Regions from separate parts of the Homo sapiens genome. Here regions 2, 3 and 4 are each linked to region 1. Evidence: fine-mapped expression QTL. A gene starts in region 1. Each other region holds a variant in brackets. All regions are shown on one strand. Distances are between the middles of the regions.

Region 1 (2,684 bases):
TCCCTCGTTTCTGTTCGTGCCTTCCCTCCCTCCTCCTCCCCCCGATATTTTCGCTTTCTAAAACCATAAAAAAGAGATCAACTTCCCAAACTTCACAGGGCCCTTTTCAGTGACAAATATTGATGCCCAAAGTGTCTGCGCTCTCCCGCCCCCAAACGTTAAGAAAAGACGCCAGCGAAAGGGAGACATAAAAAGTTAACAATGCTGTGAAAATATGTTTGCAGAAAATAGACAATCGTTGGATTAAACGTATTCAAGTATGAAATAATGCCTTTTTGTGTCAAAACTTGGGCGATGGGCGGGTACAAAAGTTCCCTGTGGCAGCTACTTGCTCCCTTTGTGAGCCGTGCGCTTTGGCGTCTCCACTTGGGCGCATTACTCAGAGCCCTCTAAGCGCGATTGTTTCTCCCTTTCTAATGACATTTACCGGATCAAAACATGCTGTTAATTCGATCAGAAGGCTTCACCCTCCCTGACAAAGCCACAATAATTTCTCCTGAAGTTTGTTAAATTGACCAAAATTAGGCAAATGAATAGGGGTCTGTAGGCGCCCCCTCTCGCAGGTGACGTTGCATAATGCTTGCCTGGGCCAGCTGCATTCCCCCTTTTCTTCTCGGCCCACTCTTCTCCGTGTTGCCCCCCAATCCTCCCACCCGCCCCTTCACACACAAACACACACACACGCCCGCCAGTCTCTCCTCCCCCACCCTCTGGCATTATTAAAATTTAGCCCAATGAAACTATTCATACTTTTCAATGGACATTTTCGTATAGGATAATAGGCTACAAATTGAGCCTCTTCCCCCCGCGAAGAGGGAGCAGGAGGGGTGGGGAGAAAAGAAAGCCAGCGACGTGGTCAGGGAGTAGGGGGGAGCGTCGCGTGCCAAACAGCGGCGGGAGGGGCGAGGCGAGGCGAGGCGGGAGCCTCGTGTGCCAGCCGCAGCCCCACACCTGCCGGGATGTCCGGACAAATAAAGCGGTGTAAACAAAAAGGGGGGAGAAGGACGTGTCACCAAGTCGTGTGAGAAAAGCCTGGGAACAAACGGGGCGCCTCCGTCTCCAAGAGCTCTCCCTTGAACCCGGCGGAACAGCCTATTAAAGGCTTACTTAATTACTTTAATGACTCTGGACAGGCTTTAAAACGCACTCGGCGCTGGGACGGCGGGCTTGCTGGGATTTGTAAACAGGCGATCATGTGAGACTCAGCGGTGGGACTAAAAGAGGCGACACTGTTTTGTGAGGGTCCTCGCCCCCCGGTGCCCGCGGCCGCTGCGCCCCTGCGCTCCGCGCCCGCGACTGCTGCAGGCGCTTGCTCGCCCGCCGGCCCCAGTTTACCGCCTCCTTTTCCCGCCCGAGCTGTTGCCATGCAAATGTTATTCCTGGGCCGATCACGTGTCCTTTGAAGGGCCACGTGGATTAACAAAGCTGATCTGCCCCCAGCTCGCCCCCCTCGGCTGCTAATTTTTTTTTTTTCTTAACTTCTTTAAAACTGATCTTGAATGCATACATCCTCCAAACGCAGCTCCCCTAATCCTATGGAATAATTCAACTCGTGAATGCATCTGGAGCCCTAGATGACCGCTTTATAAGGCAGCCCTCGGAGTTGGGAGGCTGCAGTCTACCTGGGACACTCGAGGAGGCACACGAGGCGGAAAAGTGGACGGGTGCCCCGCGCCACCGCCTCTCCCGAGGGCGCGTACTGACCAGGATGTCAGACAAGCTCAAGGAACGCAAAGTGAGTCGGCTGAGCCCAAATGGCACTTGCGCCCTGGTGGTGGAGGCATCTGACTCACCGACCCGCCACTTGGGTGGACCGATGGCAGGGAAGTGCCCGCACGGGACTTTGAGTGTGGAGGAATCTCGAGTGGTTTGGGAAGGGGGTGGGGTAGAGAGAGGAGGGTGCTCAACCAGGTAGAAGTCCTGCCTGGAGGCTGGCGGCCACCTCCCCAAAGGCCTGGGTAGGGTGGCTGGAAGGGGAGCGCGCCAGCGCGGGCGTCAGAAGGCAGAGCTCACCTGGCCCGAGCGTGGCGGGCCAGGAGTCCCTTCCTAGAGCGAATCTGAGCAGTGTGCGCGGCTGGAGAGGCGGCTTGCACCCAGCTGCTAGAGCCGCGCCTTTGACGACTTCCCGGGCAAAGCCATCCTAAACATACAACCCTCTCTTCGCAGAGAACCCCCGTTTCTCATAAAGTGATAGAAAAGCGGAGGAGGGACAGGATCAACCGCTGCTTGAACGAGCTGGGCAAGACAGTGCCCATGGCCTTGGCGAAGCAGGTAACGTTGGCGACCCGGAGCCGGGTGCCAGGCGTTGGGAGGCCTCTGCGGCCACTCTGCGGAGACGCCCGAGCCCGCGGACACAGAGGACCTCACTTGCGGGCCCCTCCCAGGCGGGGGGCCTGAGCGCAGGGCGAACCTCAGGAGGCTCTGGCGCAGATCCGCAGCCGCGTCCGCTCGCTGGTCCTCTCCAGCGCCACAGTGCCCGACCAGCAGGCGCTGGGCCGCTGCGAGGGGCCCTTCCTCCTTTTGCAGAGTTCCGGGAAGCTGGAGAAGGCGGAGATCCTCGAGATGACCGTTCAGTACCTGAGAGCACTGCACTCCGCTGATTTTCCCCGGGGAAGGGAAAAAGGTGGGCACAGGTTAGGGAATGGGACGCCTGGGCCAGGCGCCTGCGCCACCCAGAGACCCTG
Region 2 (2,684 bases), 37 kb before region 1:
ATGAGGGAAGCGGCCAAGTGTGCCTTGTTCACGTCCACATGCCGGGAGATAAGCCGTGCCTGGCAGATGGAAGTCACTCCTTCAGAGTTTGTGGACTGATGGACAGACGGAAGAGAGAGCACAGAGCAGGCAGGGTGTCTGGAAGCCCCCCCGGGCCTGCAGCCTGCTGCTCCTGCAGATCTCTGAGGGGCTGCTGTTGCCATCATCCACATGGCCCCTTCCAGCCTCCTCTGCAGACAAGATTCCTTCCTGCCTTCCTTGTTGTCCCGCAGCCTCTTACGGTCAACCTCATCATGTAAGAGACCTGGATGGTTTTCTGGTTCCTGACAGCTCAGAGACCCCAACAGAGAAATGGTCAAGAAAGAACAAAGTAAAAGTCCTCCACGAGCCAGAGATGACCATTGTTTCCTCCTGAAAGCGTATTGTTCTGTGTTCTGCTTTTTAACACTAAACAAGTGAAATATTTCCACGCCACAAGTAGCCTTTCAAAATGCAATGTCAGTGGTTACATTTGGTTGCTCCATTCTTTAGGGTATCAGATGTTAGATGTTAGACATTCTGGTTTTTCTTGGAAGCTCGCTCTGTAAATAAATGATTCAACTTCTGGAATCATTCATGTGAAGACCAACATTCATTTGCATGTCTGCGCCCTGTGGTCCACACAGACCTGCACATGAATGTTTTAGCTGCTTTATTCCTGATTGCCAGACACCAGAAACAACCCAAATGCCCACCGATAGGAAAATGGGTCAACAAACTATAGGACAACACAATGGAATACTACTCACCAATAAAAGGAGCAAACAACCCATGAATGCAATACCATGGATGCATCGAAAAACATTTGCTAAATGACAGAAGCCAGGTGCAGATGGCCACACCTGTAATTCCATTTGTGTGACGTTCACAAAAGGCAAAACTACAAGCTGCAAAGCAGATCAGCGCTGCCAGGGGCTAGGGATTGCGGCAGGGGATTGACCACAAAGGGTAGCATGGGTGAACTTTTTGGAATGATGGGAAGCTTTTTTATTATGGGGGTGGTTACATGACTGTATACGTTTGGCAAAACTTATCCAGCTGTCTACCTTATAAGGATCAATTTTATTGTATGTAAAGTATACCCCACCTAAATCTGACCCGAGAAAAATAATAATGTAATGTAGAATATTCCTTTTATGGATCTCTATTTGAATATCTATGAGTATATCCTTTGGATATATTTCCAGAAGTAGAATCATCGGATCCAAGTGCATGAACATTTTAAAATCACACGTGTATTTTTACAAGGCCTTCTTTGGAGGCAGTGCTTTAAAGGAGTGTCCACGGGGCTTTCAGGAATCCTGGCACATGGAAGGGAGCAACCACGAGTGTTTTGCAGAAGTGAGGGAGGGCAGTCCTGTTGCTGCCTCTTACATCCCACCACAAAACATAGGCGACTATAGGACCTCTCTGCTTCCTGACCTCTGAAGTGTCAGGAATAAGCTGCCTCA[T/C]TGACTCCCATCACTCCACCCCAAAGGCCAGAGCTCAGCACTGCCCAGCGTGGTACAATTGAACTTCCTGCCATGGCGGGAACTGTTCTGCATCTGTGCTGTCACATACACTAGCCACAAGTCACTACTGAGTACTGGAAATGTAGTTAGTACAAATGAGAACCTGAATTTATTTTTTTCAAGTTTTGTTAATTAAAAATTAAATTTAAGGCCAAGCGCAGTGGCTTATGCCTGTAATCCCAGCACTTTGGGAAGCTGAGGTGGGGAGATCACTTGAGGTCAGGAGTTCGAGACCAGCCTGGCCAACATGGTGAAACCCCATCTCTAGTAAAAATACAAAAAATTAGCCAGGCGTGGTGGCATACACCTGCAATCCCAGGTACTCAGGAGGTTAAGACAGGAGAATCGCTTGAACCTGGGAGGCTTGCAGTGAGCTGAGATTGCACCACTGCACTCCAGCCTGGGTGACAGAGTAAGACTCTGTCGCTAAATAAATAAATAAATAAATAAATAAATAAATAAATTTAAATAGCCACATAAGACAGGGCACAGTGGTTCATAGCCTGTAATCCCAGCACTTTAAAAGGCTAAGGCAAGAGGATTGCTTGAGGCTAAGAATGTGAGACCAACCTGGGCAACATAACAAGATTCCCATTTCTAAAAAATAATTTAAAAATTAGCTGGGTGTGGTAGTGCATGCCTGTAGCCCGAGCTACTTAGGAGGCTGAGGCAGGAGGATCACTTGAGCATGGGATGTTGAGAGAGCAGTGAGCTATGGCCACACCACTGCACTCCAGCCTGGGCAACAGAGCGAGACCCTGCCTCTAAAAAATGAATAAATAAATAAATAGCCAGATGAAGCTAGTGGCTACCATACTGGACAGTGCAAGTCTACAACTCTAGACTTGCAGGAGAAATGGAAGGACCAATAAGTAGCTTGGCAGCCAGCATCCAGTGAGCCAGCTATAGGGCCCACTCTGACTCTCTCTAACCTTGCTGTGAACACTGGGCCTTCTGCCTTATACCCCAGTACCAGGAAACAGAGTCCTGTTTTGCTCCTCATGCTGGAGTATCTGCCTCAGTTCCCTGCCCCTGCTCCAGAGCTCCTGCCCTGCTCCCTACACCCTTCCCCGGAACGGGAATCCTGACCTTAGACCCCTTTGCAGGTTTGATGCCAGTGCTCCAGGTAACATC
Region 3 (2,684 bases), 29 kb before region 1:
GAGGGACAGTTTGAAGGCAGAAGAAGGGGCCACAAGTGCAGGAATCAGGGTGACTGCTAGAAGCTGAAAGGGCAAAGCGATTCTGCCCTGGAGGCTTCAGAGGAGGCCAGTCCTGCCAACACTTCTACTTTAGCTCCATGAAACCGATTTTGGACTTCTGAATAAATTTGTGTCATTTGAAGCTACCAAGTTTGTGTAATTTGCTACAGAAGCAATAGAAAATGAATACATGCAGTATGATGAGAACATTCCCAGTCCACTCTGAGAAGGTTGTGCCGCCCAGATGAGTGCTGGTGACAGGGAGCCCGGGGTGGTGTGACAGGCTCATGTATGCAGCTGGGTCACCCCACATTCTGGGAACCACCCAGAGGTTTGCTCCGAGCATTGTCCTCGGTCACAGCTTCCTATGGAGAGAGTGGGGCCACATCAGTCTCCCACTCAGAGGTAAAGACATCTGTGTCTCCTGCAACGTCATCAGTTTGTCCCTGTGGCAAGCAGCAGGGAGTGACTGATTTGTGACACCACGCCTTACCTGTGTGACTTTCAATGATTGTTTTCCTAGGCAGCATTGCAGCTGAGCCGTCGGGCAAATGAGAGCCAAGCAAGTTGGAGCTGCCCGGGAACTGGATGTGCTTGCTTAGAAAACATTTCAACATTTCCAAGGGTATAGTTTCTCCCACATACTCTGGAACGCTTGGAAACCACTTTAATTAGCATTGTTTGCCTGTCTGGCTGCCTTGGGTCTTTGGTTTGCTGAGGGCTGCTTGGAGGCTATGCCCTCCTCTCCAGCCCCTGCGTTGGGAAGTCACAGGAGACCGGAGCTGCGCACGACATCACAGCGCCGAATTCTGACCCAATCTGAATCAAATGTCACCCATACCCTGTCTTCAACCAACAAAAGAGCAACGAAGCCAGAGACATCATCTTCAGCTGCCTTGGCCTGTAAGGAATTCATTCTGACTTGAGAGGTGCTTTAACACTTTCACATGTAATTGTGTCCAGAATTGGTGGGTTCTTGGTCTCACTGACTTCAAGAATGAAGCCGCGGACCCTCGCGGTGAGTGTTACAGCTCCTAAGGTGGCGCGTCTGGAGTTTGTTCCTTCTGATGTTCAGGTATGTTTGGAGTTTCTTCCTTCTGCTGAGTTCGTGGTCTCACTCGCTCAGGAATGCAGCTGCAGACCTTCACGGTGAGTGTTACAGCTCTCAAGGCAGAGCGCCTGGAGTTGTTCGTTCCTCCCGGTGGGCTCGTGGTCTCACTGGCTTCAGGAGTGAAGCTGCAGACCTTCGCAGTGAGTGTTACAGCTCATAAAAGCAGTGTGGAGCCAAAGAGTGAGCAGTAACAAAATTTATTGCAAAGAGGGAAAGAACAAAGCTTCCACAGTGTGGAAGGGGACCCCAGCGGGTTACCAATGCTGGCTCGGGCAGCCTGCTTTTATTCTCTTATCTGGCCCCA[C/T]CCACGTCCTGCTGATTGGTAAAGCCGAGTGGTCTGTTTTGTCAGGGCGCTGATTGGTGCGTTTACAATCCCTGAGCTAGACACAAAGGTTCTCCAAGTCCCCATCAGATTAGTTAGATACAGAGTGTCGATTGGTGCACTCACAAACCTTGAGCTAAACACAGGGTGCTGATTGGTGTGTTTACAAACCTTGAGCTAGATACAGAGTGCTGATTGGTGTATTTACAATCCCTGAGCTAGACATAAAGGCTCTCCAAGGCCCCACCAGACTCAGGAGCCCAGCTGGCTTCACCTAGTGGATCCTGCACCAGGGCTGCAGGTGGAGCTGCCTGCCAGTCCCGTGCTGTGCGCTCGCATTCCTCAGCCCTTGGGTGGTTGATGGGACTGGGCACCGTGGAGCAGGGGGCGGCGCTCATCAGAGAGGCTCGGGCCGCACAAGAGCCCGTGGAGGGGGTGGAAGGCTCAGGCATGGCGGGCTGCGGGTCCTGAGCCCTGCCCCCCCGGGAAGGCAGCTAAGGCCCGGCGAGAAATCAAGCGCAGCGCCGGTGGGCCGGCACTGCTGGGGGACCCAGTACACCCTCCGCAGCCCTTGGCCCGGGTGCTAAGTCCCTTATTGCCCGGGGCCAGCAGGGCCGGCCGGCTGCTCCGAGTGCGGGGCCCGCCAAGCCCACGCCCACCCGGAACTCCAGCTGGCCCGCAAGCGCCGCACGCAGCCCCGGTTCCCGCTCGCGCCTCTCCCTCCACACCTCCCTGCAAGCTGAGGGAGCGGGCTCCCGCCTTGGCCAGCCCAGAAGGGGGCTCCCACGGTGCAGTGGTGGGCTGAAGGGCTCCTCAAGTGCCACCAAAGTGGGAGCCCAGGCAGAGGAGGCGCCGAGAGCGAGCGAGGGCTGTGAGGACTGCCAGCACGCTGTCACCTCTCAAAATCACTACCTGCGCCTCAGATTTGACAGTGAAGTGTTAGGGGTTAGATTATGCAGTGTCAGGGCAGGCTATATGGAAGTGATAATGATGTCATAAATGACAAGTTGCATTTCTTTCTTCCAATGACATACTTGCAACTTAATCAATTGCCTTTTTATTTCCCCCAATCCACAGATTTGTTAAACTATTCTATCAGATGAATATTTTGCTTATGTTTTATGCAAAAGAGGACTCACAGAATCTGAAATGTGAAACACAGGAAACTGACGTTCAATGGGCAGGCTACACAGAGGCTGGTGCAAAGCCATC
Region 4 (2,684 bases), 33 kb before region 1:
TGCACTCCGGGAAGGATGTGCAGGGACGCAGCCCTCCAGATGGGCTTTGCAAACCAAGGGGACACCTAGTGATAAAAGGGATGAAAAGCAACCGTGACAGGCCCAGAATGTTCTTTTGAGTCTTTCCTTTTTCTTTATTTTTCAGGGTTTGTAAAATGTATTGTTTAGGATGAAGCACTACAGATCAGAGCCTCACCACGTGTTTTCGATCTGGTGTTTCTAGGGAAATTGGCTTTGATCGCCGTTTCAACTGCATTGGATCTATGAGGGCGTATTTAAAAACAAAACAAAAAAGCTTCTTTTCAGAATTCTCCATCATCATCCTTAAAACGTATTTTTAGACATCTTATAATTTGCAGGGCACGGTTAGTACTTGGCAAAATAGAGGCAACAAGAAGTTGGGGAAGGAATCTCAGCTCGTGTTCAGAAACTGCAGTTTCATTCCGGCCCCATGGCATGTCTCTGTGGCTTTGGGAAAGTCAGCCATCTCTCTGAGCCTCAGTGTCCTTAGCTGTCACATGAGGCTATGGAACTACAGGATCTAACATTGTATAAATGGGTGATAAATAGTCTTGCAATTGATTATTATATAGACGTCTTGGGGGCTGGTAGAAATGAGAGGGGCTGGAGGTGGAAGAAAAACAGAATTTGTCCTTGGTAACCTTTCTGGTGCATGAGCACTAGTCATGTGGGGACCAGGGAATGGACACCCGTTTCCATTTTGCAAGGCTACCTATGAATTATGCATGTCGTACACACAGGCAAAAGGGATGGATAATTACCAGTTTGACCTCTGAGAAGAGAGACACTGGGTGAAAGGAATGTTGTTTGCTAGAAAGGGTAGAACAGGGGGTTTTCAGATCTGTTTAATAAAGGAACTTTACTAATCATCTAGTCTACACCCACCCACCTAATAGACAAATAAAGCAACACTCAGAGTGATTTAAGTGATTGGATCAAGAGCACACCATTAGTGGTAAAGTCAGAGGAGTCCAGTGCTAGGAAAAGCCATTCTAAATAACAAGAAACCCATGGCTTTTACAACCAACTCATG[T/C]GATGCTAGACAGTCTGGTTTCCACATCAATGTTGACAAAAGTCATGTAAAGCAACGTAAAAATGTGACAAATGTTACCAACCATTGTCTGTGCATGCTTCAGTCATGCGCAGAGCCTTGGATATCCTTGAGAGAGCAGAAGAGAGACATGGTACCTAGGTCCCCAGGGAGAGGGAGAGGCAATTCTTGGGATGCTATTTGTTTCTTGGACACAGAGTCTAACCAAGGACCGAGGCCCGTGTCCTCTAGAATTTTGGACTAAGTCACAAAACTTTTTATTTTAAAATTTCTAATATTTGTATCCAACAAATAGAATGCCTATACCACTGAACTTTTCTCCCCAAGTTTTTGCATAATGAAAGAGGTCAACATTACTAGCCTCATCTCTTCACTCTCCTCCTCCCTCACCTTCCACTTGCTGGTAGCCTCCTTGTCCCTCCCTGAAGATGGCAACCACAGCGTCTCCGCACCTCAGCACCTACACGCAGGCTGCTCCTCTGCTCAGGATACTCCAGAATCTACCCCATCCACTTCTCGGTCATCTTCAAGTTTCTGCTCAAATATCATCTTCACTGGAGGCCTTCCCTGACCATCCTATCTAGGATACAACCCCACTCCTGGTTCCTTTTCCTTTGCATTTTTTTTTCCTTGACACTCATCACCTTCTAATATTTTCAGTTTTGTGTGTCTCCCTTCAAGTGTGTAACCTTCATGAAGATCAGGGCTTGGCTCTGTTTTGTTCCCTGTGATGCGCACAGGTCCCAGCATGGTGTCTGCCAGATAGCGCTGGATATTTTTCTGAGTGCACACAAGCTTTTCTTCACTTTCTGGTTTTTGTTCCTGCTTGCCTCTGCCTTCTAATCTCTTTCCCAGACTTGCTCAAGTCTCACCCCCTAACTAGAAGTGGATTCATTAACTTCACAGCTAAAAGAGCATCGTTTCCAGTGTCCTCACTTGAGAAAACCAAAAAGGCTAACGGCACAGACCCAGGACTTGAACTTGGATGTTATGTTGCCTCCCAGCCACGGCTCTCCCCACAGTCCCGGATTCCTCCAGCCTGGTGTGCACCTTCCTTCTTCCCCCAGGTCTGGCCCTGTCTACCTGTATGTGCCACGCCTTCTTACACCTCATCTGAGCAACGCTGAATCCTGATTCTGCCACAACTTAAGCATGTGGCCTTGGACAAGTGACTTAACTTCTCTCGGCCTTGGGCTTCTGCCTTCTCAAGGGAAGAGTAACATCTACCTCAGAAGATGTTCACAAGGCTCAATTAAAATGAAGGAAGCACAGCCCTCTCCTGGCCAAGGCTCAGTGCCTGGCTGTTCCTTTTCCTTTCTCTGGCTTGTGCGGAGATGGTCATTTGCTCAACAGAAATGTTAAGTTTCTCAAGGTCTCTCTGTTGTCCCCATCCCCAGGCCTAAGCTCCTAGAAGACAATGAAGAAATCCTTGGGGAATGAAAATGAGTTTTAAAGGGAGGATGGCAGGAAGAAGGGCCTCTATAAGGTGGGCATCTCACTATCAGGGCTGGCTCATGGATTCTAGCTTGCAGGCCTGGCACCCCTTAAGATTAATGATGAAGATGAACAAGGCCTCCAAGAGGCCAGGTAAGGCAACATGAGACATTTTCCA

Direction of the effects. Positions count from the first base shown, and alleles are read on the strand shown. Sizes are in standard deviations (SD) of each study's normalised expression. Not every link is listed here.
For the expression in unexposed skin of the gene that starts at base 1,270 in region 1, T is the high allele of the variant in region 3 and C is the other (large effect, 0.85 SD a copy in GTEx).
In carriers of allele T in region 4, the expression in sun-exposed skin of the gene that starts at base 1,270 in region 1 tends to be higher than with C alone (large effect, 0.84 SD a copy in GTEx).

What was found. PIP is the estimated chance that this variant, and not a neighbour inherited with it, causes the effect.
Region 2: its variant is fine-mapped to the expression of HELT in unexposed skin (GTEx, PIP 0.93).
Region 3: its variant is fine-mapped to the expression of HELT in unexposed skin (GTEx, PIP above 0.99).
Region 4: its variant is fine-mapped to the expression of HELT in sun-exposed skin (GTEx, PIP above 0.99). The same link has a PIP of 0.9 or more in testis.

The regions. Positions count from the first base shown.
Region 1 is chr4:185,017,221-185,019,904 of GRCh38, forward strand. HELT (helt bHLH transcription factor) reads left to right here and starts at 1,270. Exons shown (of 4, transcript NM_001300781.2): 1 at 1,270-1,735; 2 at 2,167-2,271; 3 at 2,527-2,623. The coding sequence starts at 1,709. RefSeq lists enhancers at 520-1,100, 1,101-1,679, 1,680-2,259.
Region 2 is chr4:184,979,890-184,982,573 of GRCh38, forward strand. No RefSeq gene overlaps it. Among named protein-coding and RNA genes, the nearest start is that of LINC02437, 8.1 kb to the right of the region's middle. The variant T/C (reference allele first, on the strand shown) is at 1,491.
Region 3 is chr4:184,988,279-184,990,962 of GRCh38, forward strand. LINC02437 (long intergenic non-protein coding RNA 2437) reads left to right here and starts at 1,069. Exons shown (of 2, transcript XR_001741949.1): 1 at 1,069-1,188. The variant C/T (reference allele first, on the strand shown) is at 1,455.
Region 4 is chr4:184,984,160-184,986,843 of GRCh38, forward strand. No RefSeq gene overlaps it. Among named protein-coding and RNA genes, the nearest start is that of LINC02437, 3.8 kb to the right of the region's middle. RefSeq lists an enhancer at 1-130. The variant T/C (reference allele first, on the strand shown) is at 1,055.